2 linked regions of the Homo sapiens genome follow. The protein of the gene in region 2 purifies or fractionates together with the protein of the main gene of each other region. This does not show direct contact. Each region holds a gene or a part of one and is shown on either strand. Other genes may lie near its edges.

Evidence for each region.
Region 1: the proteins of FMR1NB (region 2) and CEBPZ purify together in Homo sapiens (affinity purification with mass spectrometry; 3 studies listed by BioGRID and IntAct, with this or other methods). This does not show direct contact.

Annotation. Positions count from the first base shown.
Region 1 is NC_000002.12:37,221,597-37,228,627, forward strand, and holds part of CEBPZ (CCAAT/enhancer-binding protein zeta), read right to left. Parts: coding exon 5,948-7,031; intron 1,806-5,947; coding exon 1,574-1,805; intron 968-1,573; coding exon 784-967; intron 1-783. UniProt on the Homo sapiens protein: Stimulates transcription from the HSP70 promoter.
Region 2 is NC_000023.11:147,998,318-148,005,348, forward strand, and holds part of FMR1NB (FMR1 neighbor protein), read left to right. Parts: intron 1-4,883; coding exon 4,884-5,003; intron 5,004-7,031.

The DNA of each region.
Region 1 (7,031 bases), on a different chromosome or scaffold from region 2:
AACTAGGAACTGACTACCTTCCAACACACAAGCTCTTCATCCTTCTAAAGGATTATTCTCAGTTTAGTCTTCAGGGGAACTGATGGATTCTTCTCAAACTTTTCTGGCAGCTATCAGACTTCTCTTTTGTACTTCACAAACTGAAATTTGTAGATGAATTAATTTGACTGTGAGTCCCAAAGCAAGCTGAAGAAATGGGTCTGGCACCACATTTCTCGAACCTCAAGGCTGGTGTTTTCTTCACAGCCTCAAATGAAGGGGCTGCATTTCTAAGATTTTTTTTTGACTCTAACATTCTATTAATAGACTTTTAATTTAGTTTGGTGTGTGTATAGAAAACCACTTAACGTTTCTATCTTGAACAGAAAGTTTTCTATCCCTAAAACATTACTTTAAGAAACTGTGGGCCAGGTACAGTGGCTCACGCCTGTAATCCCAGCACTTTGGGAGGCTGAGGCAGGCAGATCACCTGAGGTCAGGAGTTTGAGACCAGCCTGGCGAACATGGTGAAACTCCACCTCTACTAAAAATACAAAAATTAGCCAGGTGTGGTGGCACATGCCTGTAATCCCAGCTACTTGGGAGGTTGAGGCAGGAGAATCACTTGAACCTGGGAGGCGGAGGTTGCAGTGAGCCGAGATCACGCCTCTGCATTCCAGCCTGGGCAACAGAGTGAGACTCTGTCTAAATAAATAAATAAGTAAATAAAATGGTAGAATGCTATTTTCTATGAAAATCAAAGAGAAACAAACTCCCTAGAGAATAAAGATGAAAAAAACTCACCTTTCAAATTATCAAAGTGCACCCAGGAAGCAACCTCTGGTTTTTTGGTTTCTACATCAGTTTCAGGAACTGTTTCCTCTGTCTCAAGTTTTTTCACTATCTCTGTTTCTTTGTCTGCATCAGTGAATTTTTCCATGTCTTCATCATCATTTGCATCAATAAAATTTTCTTCATCATCAGACTCCTAACAAAAGTATAGTTTCATAAATCTACATAAATCAACTGGAAGTTGCAATAAAGTCTGTGCTCCATTATGTGATGCAGAGTTTTACTTATTGCAACTCTGGTGAAACGTGAAAGTTCTAATAAAGTAAAATGATGGCTATCAATGGTATTTAAACAAGAGAGGAGATTACATCCTTATTTCTAAACATAACACAGTTAAGTTTTGAGCTAAGAACCCCTGAGCCTTAAGGACTCTAATACTTGAAAACAATTAGCCCTCAAGTAAATTTCTGACTTGTAAATAACCCTATGAGGTAGGTACTATTATTTCCATTTCATTGTTAAGGAAGAAGACTTAAGAGGTCTACTAAGTTTTATAGTCTTCCAAATCTCATATAATGGTAGCTTCTAGTATAGTACAGTTTATTGCAAGTAGAAGAGTTGAGCAACATGCCCACCTAGTAAACTGTACAGCTGGTACTAAAATCTAGGTTTGTCCTATTCCAGAACTCACACTCATATGCTCCAGAGAACTAGGTTACTGTCATTTGAAGCAAAGAAAAACAAAACAAAAACCAATATATTTCAGCACCCACTCAATTTAAAAAGCAGTTGTAAAATATACCGGATGATCATCTAGTTGGCTTCTTAAACCTGGTTTTGCTTTAAGGATCTCAGACACAAGATATAAAGCTCCACATATAAATGGTGGCATCTGTTGACAAGTAACTTGAAGTAACCTCTTCACAAAAGCCTTCACCCGGCGCAACACAATGTCAGCTTTCAGAGATTTGTAGACAAGGTTAAGAAACATAGCTTGCTTGGAACACGTCATCAACCCTGGATCCAACATCTTCCTGCAAAACAAAACCAAGGTCAAATATTTATGTATAAAACCATCTCCACAACCAATGGTCACATATTAGAAATAGCTACTAACCTCATCTTAGTTAGGGATAACTTTGCTGCTTATTTTAGAACAAGAGACCCTGCCCTAAGAGGTAAGATGGAAGTCAATGACCAGAAAAGGATGATGATGGCACCAGGAAAAACCAACAGCAACAGACACAGGAATAGGCATTTTTGAGTGTGTGGTTTTCTTGTCTTTTCCAAGTGTTTTTCTGTTTTCTATATCAACAGGGCACAGCCCTAACAGTATTTACAGAACCCCACCAGAAAAGCTAATCTAAAACCAGATAGTGAAAACTGACCCATGAAAGCAGAACATTAGAAGATTTGGGTTTTTGTCCTTGTATAACTACCTACTAGCAGGGGGACCAGAGGCCGCCTCTTCATGATTTTAGTGAAGACCATCGATGAACAGCAGAAAATTAAATTCTAAGGACTTCAGAGAATCTCTAGTCCAATGTACTAGCTGTGTAACATTCCTCTCATACACGCTATTTTCACTGCCCAGAGTGCTTCTCTCCAACTCTCTGCATGTCCACAGTATCCAAAATTGGTTCTTCTATTAGTCTCTCAGTCCCATGTTTGTGTTCTTCATAGTTTCACAAACTTGATTTTCCTGCCTTTCCCTCTTCTCTAAAGGTCCAATGAAATAGGGATTATGCCTGTTATTCACTGTTGTAACCCCAGTGCCTGGCAGTTAATACCTTTACATGACAGTTTTCCAAATACTTGAACCTATTTAGCTATTATGTGCTTGTCTCTCCCTAATGTCTGTCTTCTGTAGGCTGCTCTACTTTGATCTCATGATACTTTAAAAATTCTCTATCCTAGGTGCTGAATCCTACACATGTCCCCAACCGGTCTAGACCTGCAGATATTAGGACACCCAGAATTAACACAATCCTCCAGATTAGCTCTATTAACACCTGGAATCATTACTTCCTTTGTTTTAAGCATTTCCATTAATTTTTTCCTACTAACACTAGAAATGAAAAATACTTAAGCTTGTGAAGCACTTTCCTATTGCTCTGAATACTCTGGGAAATATCACCCTTTTGGTAATATTCTGGGATATTCTGGATTATTCAATTTTCTCTCTTTACATTTAAATTTTCCCTCTTTACATTTAAATTTTCCAACATTTCCATCCATTTTGCAATTTATTATTAGGCATAAATTACATCTCACATCAACAGAAACATCTGAGAAGAATTTAGAGACATGTCTCTATCATTTCATGAAATATTTTCCTAATGTTTTGATAAATATTTTTGTAAACCAAATCATGTCATTTCTTTTATCCCTCAATTAACTAGGGGTTTTCTTAATGTGAAGGATTCCTAATAAAACCAAGAGCAAACAAACACTTTAAGAAGGCCTAAAGGCCTGTTAAGAAACTCCATCTGTGAGCGCTTTTGGCAAATAGTAATTTCAAAAACTTAAAAATCCACCCTTCCTCAGAGATGTTAGACTATGATGTTAAATAGAGACAGAAAAATGTTTTCTAATAGATTTCAAACACTTTCTAAAAATCAAAAATTCCTATGACCATCAAAAGTTCAAAATAATGAAACCACCCCCCTTCAAAACAAACAAACAAACAAACAAACAAACAAACTAACAAAAACAAAACTCAAGATCCCGAAACCTCTACATTTTCAGCCTTGGAACTCTTTTCAAATTAACAGTGTTAAGTTATCTATTACTTCAAAGAGTTGTGGAAAGGCTTCTGAGTCTTTTTAGTGGACCAGAGCAATCAGTGCTATGAAATGTCATGAAATCTACAGCAAGTGGACCTGGACTTGCCACCTAACTTGGTCTCTTAATATCTGTGTGACCTTGCCCAAATTATTGTATCTCACAGTGTGGGGAAAAGGAAGAGAGATCAGATTGTTACTGTGTCTGTGTAGAAAGAAGTAGACATAGGAGACTCCATTTTGTTATGTACTAAGAAAAATTCTTCTGCCTTGAGATTCTGTTAATCTATAACCTTACCCCCAACCCCGTGCTCTCTGAAACATGTGCTGTGTCCACTCAGAGTTGAATGGATTAAGGGCGGTGCAAGATGTGCTTTGTTAAACAGATGCTTGAAGGCAGCATGCTCCTTAAGAGTCATCACCACTCCCTAATCTCAAGTACCCAGGGACACAAAAACTGCGGAAGGCCGCAGGGACCTCTGCCTAGGAAAGCCAGGTATTGTCCAAGGTTTCTCCCCATGTGATAGTCTGAAATATGGCCTCGTGGGAAGGGAAAGACCTGACCGTCCCCCAGCCCGACACCCGTAAAGGGTCTGTGCTGAGGAGGATTAGTAAAAGAGGAAGGAATGCCTCTTGCAGTTGAGACAAGAGGAAGGCATCTGTCTCCTGCCTGTCCCTGGGCAATGGAATGTCTCGGTATAAAACCCGATTGTATGCTCCATCTACTGAGATAGGGAAAAACCGCCTTAGGGCTGGAGGTGGGACCTGTGGGCAGCAATACTGCTTTGTAAAGCATTGAGATGTTTATGTGTATGCATATCTAAAAGCACAGCACTTAATCCTTTACATTGTCTATGATGCAAAGACCTTTGTTCACGTGTTTGTCTGCTGACCCTCTCCCCACAATTGTCTTGTGACCCTGACACATCCCCCTCTTCGAGAAACACCGACAGATGATCAATAAATACTAAGGGAACTCAGAGGCTGGCGGGATCCTCCATATGCTGAACGCTGGTTCCCCGGTTCCCCTTATTTCTTTCTCTATACTTTGTCTCTGTGTCTTTTTCTTTTCCAAATCTCTCGTCCCACCTTACGAGAAACACCCACAGGTGTGTAGGGGCAACCCACCCCTACATCACAGACTGGAGAGCTGTTAAGAGGATTAAACTAAAGAAACATGGATGACTATCAGTAATAAGGATAGCCGCCAACATTTCACATAGCACTAAGTGTTAGGCACTGTTAAGCACTTAATATACATAGAAAGATTACATGGGTTAACACACATAACCTCCCAACCTTCATTAAAGCCCCAGTTCTGTCATTTACAAGCTGTAGAACCTTGTGCAAGTTTCAAAATCTTCATAATAATCATATGAGATAGCTGCTTTTCTCTCCATCCTACAGACAAATCCACTTAAGCATGATAACATGGGATGAATTATGTCTACCAATAGGTTTTTAGTGGGGATCAAGTAATTTGCCCAAAATTACACAGAAAACTAATGGCAGGGACTCAAACCCAGGCGGCGTGGCTTAAGTCTAAGATACGAACCACTACTCCACATTTTCTCACAAGATATATCTATGTAAAAATATAAAAATGAATCAGAAGGAAATATATTAATTTCTTGAACACAGTTGCTATGTTCGACTGTCTCTTAAACAGCTCCAAACTGTTTACACATTGCTGAAAATATGATGCCTCAATGGGTGAGTTGCAAAATTCAGTAAAGAAAATCTTCATCTCCATTAAAAAACAACAACAAAAAAAACCCTGCACCCTGCATCCCCCAAAACTCTCTACTTAACATACTTTGTTTACCACCGCTCCCCTCTCTGCCACCTCCTCCAATATGAATGTGAGCGCCTCCAGGGGTGGGATTTCTGTTCGCTGTGCCTCCTGTGCACCTAGAGCATGGCACCATACTGCAGGCACTCAGAAAATACTTGTTGAATGAGTTACTGTGTGAATGCATTCAACTGTGTGAAAGACAGCAGGGAAAAGATAGAGGACTGAGGAGAATGGGAAGACGGAAACTGCAATTATATCTGCAATTTTATTTCTTTAATATCCCAAAAGATTTAAAACAAATATAGCAAAATGTTAATTCTGAAATACTAGGTGGTAGATATGAATGAATCTTTTGGGTATTTTTCTGTATTTTACAACCTCTCAAAATGAAAAATGTATTCAAAGCATCTAATATAATTTGTGCCCATCAGGGAAACAAAGATTAAGTGACTTACTTGAAGGTGGCGAGTAGCAAGCTGCTGAGGGGGCCTAAAACCAAATTTTCTAACTCTTTTTCTTGCCCCACAGAGGGCACTGCTTGTGCTGTACTACATCAAGTTATTATTTCATGTCTCATATTGGAAGGGTATGTTCTTACCTGTATAATGCTGTGTAATATCGATCCGATATTGTCTGCTGAGAATTCATTACTTGGAAAAGCAACATTAAAGCCTGGACACTGGTATTAAAATTCACAATATGCAACACTTTAAACAGTGTGTCAATCTGCTCCCTTACTTTGTCATCACCAGTCTGGGAATAAGGGTATGCCCTATTCACACCTGTTAAAAGGGCGCTAAGCATTTTTGATTCAACATCTTTTTTTTTGACACAAGTCCGAAAAAAGCAAAAGTAAACAGTTATTAATTTGTTAGCCAATTCACTTTCTTCATGGGACAGAGCCATTTGATTTAAAAAGCAAATTGCATAATATTGAGCTTTGGAGCTGATATTTGAGCGGAAGAGTAGCCTTTCTACTTCACCAGACACAACTCCTTTCATATTGGGATGTTTACAAAGTAATGTCTCTAACAGATGGGATGCTTTTGTGGCAATTCTGTTCTGAGGATCTCCCAGTTTATTTACCACTTGCACAAGAAGAGCCTTTTCTTCCTCAGGCTTGTTACAAAGCAGCTCATGAGCCACGGTAAGGGCTCGAGTTTTAGTGGTTACTAATGTATCATGACTTAAAGTTTCTAAGACCTGCACAAATTCAGCCACTAAGTGTTTCAGCTGGTGTTCAAAATACCATAATATCAGTCTTCTATCTCTTGAGTCCTTGTTGCCACTGGACAACTGTTCCAGTTTGTCAAAAGGACGCTGGCTGAAAATCCTCAGCTTCCGATTGTCTGGCAAAAGGTCTGTGATAAGCAACTCTTTGAAAGTATCCAAGGCCATAAGGCACTGCTGTTTGCTGCCCTTCTTTTTAACAAGGTTCACAAGAGTTTCTACAAACTGAAGTGTGTGAACGGCATCATCCTGAATAAGAAGAATCATGGCTGCCATCCTGTCACCTAGTGTCCCCGATGACACAATTGCCTTCATCCAGGTAGAAGAGGCTCCCTTTTGACTATTCGTCTTACTTTTGAATAAGTTGATTTCATGCTGATACAGCTTCTGAGCAAGGGTTTTGTACTTAGATACAACATCCTGAGGCTGGGGTTTCAAAGAATATTCATTGC
Region 2 (7,031 bases):
GCTTGAAACCATCATTCTCAGCAAACTAACACAGGGACAGAAAACTAAACACCGCATGTTCTCACACATAAGTGGGAGTTGAACAATGAGAACATATGGACACAGGGAGAGGAACATCACACACCAGGGCCTGTCAGGGGGTGGGGGGCTAGAGGAGGGAGAGCATTAGGAGAAATACCTAATGTAGATGACGGGTTGATGGGTGCAGCAAACCACCATGGCCCATGTATACCTATGTAACAAACCTGCACATTCTGCACATGTATCCCAGAACTCAAAGTATCAAAAAAGACAAAGTTTATAAAGATTTGCCCTATGGCAAGTGATGTCAGCCGTGTTTGGTGTCATGGTAGGTTTGATATGTTACTCATTTTTTTCTTTTACACTTTCAAATAAACTCATAGCAAACATTAATATATCCATAAATATTCATCTATGTTCCACCTAAAATTCTTATGTACTACTAGTGATAGACTACACTTTGAGACATACTGCTCAAATTAATTTAAAAATAATTTTCTTTCAGAGTACGGAAGAAACCAAAGGTGGAGGGCAGGGTAAAATATATTCTAGACTTATGGTTGAGACTGCCACTGATGTTGCTCATCTTAGTTAAGATGTTTAATTGTCGCTTTCATTTCAATGCCCATTGTAATGACCGAAAGATCTATAAAGGGTGAAAACCTGGAGAACCTAGAAAGTTTCCATCTGGCATCTATATGCCAGAAACTTGGAGGGTTCTCTGAAAGATAAAAACATGATGGAGAGAAATCACAGCAACTTGTGTTTCATGTCAAGCCAAGGGCAAGCCTGTCCAGCAGGGTCTGGAGGCTAGGGCACTCTGAGTTGGGGACTCTAAGTTGGGGGATCAATATTCTAGAGGAATTCCAGAGAGCACATAACTTGCTGAATATAACTTAGGATGGAGACTTGGGCCTCAGTGTGCTACTGTCAGCCAACACTTACTTCAGATGGTGTGCTGAATCGAGTGGCAACAAGGACAGCAAATTGACGAAGGGGAACACTGAGCAAACAAACAGCAATATGGAACTAAAGTCTTGTCAAGGTCCCTTCCATCTGTAGCTCCCTTCTCATGTCATGTAGGACAGAGGGTTCTCTGATCTGGCAAAATGTGCCTAGCAACATTAATCTCATTTCTTGTCCTTGTGCTGGAAGCACTCTCCCAGGCCCTTTGTTCAGCCAGCTACTTCTAGTCTTTTTTTTTTTTCCACTTAAATATCATCTCCTCAGAGAGACTGGCTCCCATTTAAAGTAGCCCCCCTCCTTTATTCTGTATCAGTATCCACTTTTCTTCATAGCACTCATTACAATTTGTAATTACTTAATTTGTTAGTGGTCTGTCTTCTCCACTGCATTGTAGTAAGCTCCATGAGGGCAGGGATCTTGTCTGACTTGTTCACTGATATATCCTCAAAACACAGAATATAGTGGGTGTTCAATAATGAGTAAGCATTAGTAGAAAACAAGCAGGACAAAATGGATTATGTTTAATATTGTCAAGGTGTAATATATAGTGAAGATAAAATTGTCATGATTGAATATGCACTATTGGAATATATGAAACAAATAGTTTTAGAAATTTAAGTAGAAATCGTCAAAACCACAATCATGGTGAGATACTTTAATATTTATCTTTTAGTCCTTGACAGAAAAATAAAGATACAGAGCATTTGCATAATATAATTTAGCTTGATTTAACATTTATAATAGAGTTCATTGTGAGAGTACACATTCAAATGTATGTGTATGGAAGTTGCTCTCATTAAAATGAGAAAGAAGATATTATCATTGATATAAAGGAGATTTAAATATTACAAGTGAATAGTCTTATGATTCCATGCTAATAATTGCTTTGTAAATAGATGATTTCCTAGCAAAATAAAAATAACAAAATTAACTGTGACCATGAAGAAGCAAAAGATAAAGAACTACCCCTCTCCAAAAAATGAAGACTCAGACTTTTTCTGGATGAGTTTTCCCAAACCTTTAATGGATCAAATCATTCCTATATTGTTTCATCTGTTTTAGTCTAGAAAAGCAACAGGAAGCTTCCTAGGTTATTTTATGAATGAAACAGGTATAACTCTTATGCCAAAATTTACAGATGTAGCACACAAAAGAAAACTGCAGACACACTTCACTTAGGAATGTTGAATCATGAATCCTATATAAAACATTAGCACTTGTGGACTTTGTTCAAGAATGCAAGAATATTTTAATATTGGCAAATATATTAATAACATTCAATAATTAATAGGCAGGGGGAAATATCATCATGGCAGTAAATATTAAAAGGATTTGATAGAATCCCAGTTCTATCCCTGATTCAAAATGAAACAAAATAACAACAGAAAATTTGTAGAAAACTAAAACTAGAGAAATACATCCTTAATTTAATAAAGGGTATCTATCTTACACCAGCAGCCAACATTATACTTCATTATGAAATATTAGCACATTCCCATTAAAGTCAGGAATGACTCAAGAACGCCCATTATTATGGTTATTAATCAACATAGTTTAAACATTTCTAGGCAATACAGTGAAAGAAGAAAAATAATTCAGGTGTTAATATTGTAAAGAAAGGAGACAAAGTCATCTATATTTAGTGATAATATTATTGTCTATCTGGAATGAAACTGAAGAACAATGAGAACTAACGAGAGTTAACTAAGGGAGGAAGAAAATATATGTATAAAAATCAATAGCTCTCTTACATACCATCAATCCACTAGAAAATGTGGTGAAATGGATTATGTTCACAAAACAACAAAATATATATGATGCCTGGGAATAAATGTACTAAGAAAAGTGCAGGGCCTATCTGAATACAATGATAAACCTTATTCAGGGACATAAAAAGAGACTTGAATGAACAGAGAAACAAAACTACTTAGGTGAAAAAATTTTGTAACATTATCAATTCTCTCCAAATGAGTCTACATTTAATTGAATTCATGCCTAGCACGTGGGACACACAATAAATGATTTTTGAATGAATGATAAATAAGTGAACATAATTACCATAAAATTTAGAATTTTTTTTGACTTGACAAAACGATTTTAAGGTTCATCTAAAAAATTCTCAGAGCTGAAAATAAAATTTGATAGTAGAGACAATGAAAGGATTACCAGATCAGTTATTAAAACATAATGACATAAGATAGGCCGGGTGCAGTGGCTTACGGAGGCCTAGACAGGTGGATCACGATACCAGCCTGGGAAACATGGTGAAACCCCGTCTCTACTAAAAATACAAAAATTAGTTGAGCGTGATGGTGCATGCCTGTAATCTCAGCTACTCGGGAGGCCAAGGCACAAGAATCACTTGAACCAGGAAGGCGGAGGTTGCAGTGAGCTGAGATTGCGCCATTGCACTCCAGCCTGGGCAACAGAGCGATACTCTGTCTCAAAAAAAAAATAAAAGAAAAGATAAAATAAACAATAACATTAGTATTGGCACATGAATAGATAGGTTGGTGGAACAGAATAGAAAGTCAAGAAGCAGATCTATGACTATAAGGATATAGTAAGGATTTAGAATGTGATGATGTTATCTTAAGTATAACAGAAAAGGATGGATTTAATAAAGGGCCTTATGACTGCTGGAAAAATCGTATCCCTACTCCACAACACACTCCAAAATATACTCCAGGTGTATTAAATATTTAAATTTAAAAAGTACAACCATGAAAATGTTGGGAGTATTAGAGTATAGAATGCCTTTATAGAGGTAAAAATAATAAAGGAAGAGATTGATAGATTTAATTACATATAACATTTTAAGCTTCTGAGCTTCCCAAACACCATAAAAAAGTAAGGATAACCAATTACCTTGAAAAAAATATTTTAAATATGTGGCAGATTAAGAGTTAAGTTCTCTACTATGCAACACAATATGAAATATGTAAGCTCACTGATTATGAAAGTTGCAAATTAAAACAAAAGATATTTTGTTTTATTTTGGCCATCAAATTGGCAAATAATAAAAAATGGAGAGGTGTCAGAAAACTGGCACTTGCCTGTACTACTGGTAGAAGTGTATTTTAGGGTTGCCCTGCTGGAGGGTAATTTGGACATACTCAAGAGCCACCATGCCTTAAGAATTTATCTTAAGTAATTTTTCATGAATATTTGCAAATATATAAATATAAAGCTTCAGTGATAATCATTGCAAGCTAACGATAATGTAATGATAATCATTGCAGTGTTCTTTATAACATCAATAAATTGTAAACAGCCTAAATGTTTTCCTATGGAGAAATTGCTAACTGAGTTATAATAGAGCCATATAATGGAATTCTGTGACATTATTAAAGATAGTTTTGGGAAATATTTAATGCTATGGACAAATCTGTGTTATCCTCTTCTCTCATGTAGGAGGGAATTGTGTAAATAAGACTAAAAACCAGTTCTTTAAAATAGTGAGAAAGAAGGATAAGGAAGGTTTTACTGTATGTAAGGCCTTGATTTTTGTCAATATATATGTAAGCCAACATATTTTCCAAGACTTTCTGTGATGGGATCTGATTTAGTTGGAATACATACTGTTTTCAGCTCATCAGTTGATTAGGCCTCTTAATGCCATTTGTCAGAGGCAAGTTTACTATTGTAAATCAGCTTACAACAATGGCATGTGTCAGCCTATAGCTTAAGCATTTGTAAATTTAACACTTTTTCAGTTTCACAACAAAATTGCATTCTGATTATTAATGATGCTTAAGCTGTTATGAGATGAAAGTATATCTGTTAGCTATTTGACATTCTATAATTAATTTAAGCAAAGGTAATTACCATTCAAGGGTCATTGAAAGTGATAAATGCTTTATATGTTGGGATTAATAATTTTACTTCTTCTTAAGGGTCCTCATATTTTGTGCTTGCAAATGGACATATCCTGCCCAACAGTGAAAATGCTCATGGCCAATCTCTGGAAGAAGATTCCGCATTGGAAGCTTTGCTGAATTTTTTCTTTCCAACAAGTAAGTTCTTGTTTGATTTTTTTCCCCCTCTAATGTTCTTGTTTTGAAAACAGTAATTAAATGTTTAGGAAGCAGTGTGGTGTAATGGCACTGGAGTGGGACAGAGCTGAGTTTGAATCCTGGCTCTGCTCTTTGGCTTAGGCAAGACAATCTCTCTGAACCTCAGTGCCCTCATCTTTGAAATGAAGATATTTACCACAAAGAATTATGAGGATGAACTGAGATAATATTCATAAGGCATTTCATAAATGTTTGTTACTGTTTATAAAATACTTTTCCTTCGCAAATATCTAATCTTTCACAATTTGCCTGAATGGCATTGCCTGAAATTCAGTCACTGACCCAGTATTGTGAAATTGATGTCTTCTGTGGCATTAGTGAGGGTACTGTGTGACTGATGTTATGGAATATGCCAGATGTTTTCCCATCTGTTTTAATGATAGAAATCCCAGGTTTCAAGTCTCACTGTCTTTTTGTGATTCTGTATATAATGTGTTTATCAAGCACATTATGACCCCTGAGAATTATTAACCACAAATAAACACGTTTCATTTTGTATAGCATGTGGTGCCCTTTCAAGGAGAAGCTTCATATAAATTGGAATATGTGAAGTACAAAGATAAAGCTCTTATGAAAAATCATGCAGAATTTATTCTAACAAAATTTGATATACTCTATAAGCACAAAATTATATCTGTTCTTTGATTCCAGGCCTTTCCACTGAATTCTTTAGTGAACTTGAAAAAATCTCTTTATGTTTCTTTATACTTGTTACATTAAGTTTAAAACAGGCATCTACCAATGAGAATAGCAAAATAAACAAGTTCCTTAAATAAACTCAAAATACTGCCATGGTCAAATTGAGTAAATAAAAAAGAAATCTGAGACGGTGTTATGTCGTATAGGCTGAAAGAATGGTTTGAGTGCCACAGTTAGTCGTAAACAACAACTAATGATGATTTAAGCTTTAAAGCTTATGAAAACAACAGATGTAAACAGTCACATACTTACCTGTAATAACTACATTGTACAGACACTGAAGCCACCTGTAAAAATGGTTCGAAAAAGATATCTGCATTTCCCAAATATTTCTCCAACCTGGTGCAGGAAAGTAAGTCAAAATCAATTATATGAAGTAAAAATTTTGTCCAACAAAATAAAATTGTTCCATTTTAATAGAAACATCTGACCTAGGTTGATTCAAAAAGTGATTAAATATTTATCAAATGTACATACTGTCTTTGAAGACAATAACTACAGCTTCATAAAACGTGAAATATTTTTAACCAATTTATTTCTTCCCCCACATAATTGAAAATAAACACTCTTACCACTTAAGCATGAAAAAAAAGTTCGTTGTTTTGCCATTAGGCTACTATTTGTAAAATATTTATCTCTTGCAGATTAAAATGACAACCTTGATACACACTGGCAGGGAAGCTTGAGAGATCACCTGATCTTTCTCCCTTTGGACAAAATTACATACTTAAACCTGACAAAAAAAAATTGTTCTACCTTTTTGATTCTTTAAAATTACCAATGCCTCTTAGTAATTTGAGCTTGAAAGTTAATTTGTTTTTGTTTTTTTGAGACAGAGTCTCGCTCTGTTGCCAGGCTGGAGTGCAGTGGCACAATCTCGGCTCACTGCAACCTCTGCTTCCCAGGTTCAAGCAATTCTCCTACCTCAGCCTCCTGAGTAGCTGGGACTACAGGCACATGCCACCACGCCCAGCTAATTTTTGTATTTTTAGTAGAGACAGGTTTTCACCATGTTGGCCAGGACGGTCTCGATCTCTTGACCTCGTGATCCGCCCGCCTTGGGCTCCCAAAGTGCTGGGATTACAGGCACTAGCCATCGTGCCTGGCCTGTGTTAATTTTAATATCTAGCATAAAGTCCATCAGATGCACTTAAAGCAGAAATTAACAGATGATCTTAGAGATCATATAGTCTAGTCTCTTCTACGATTTAACCCTAACCCTAACCCTCTCTTTAGCATTTCTGGGAAGTGGTGTTTGAACAGTACCCA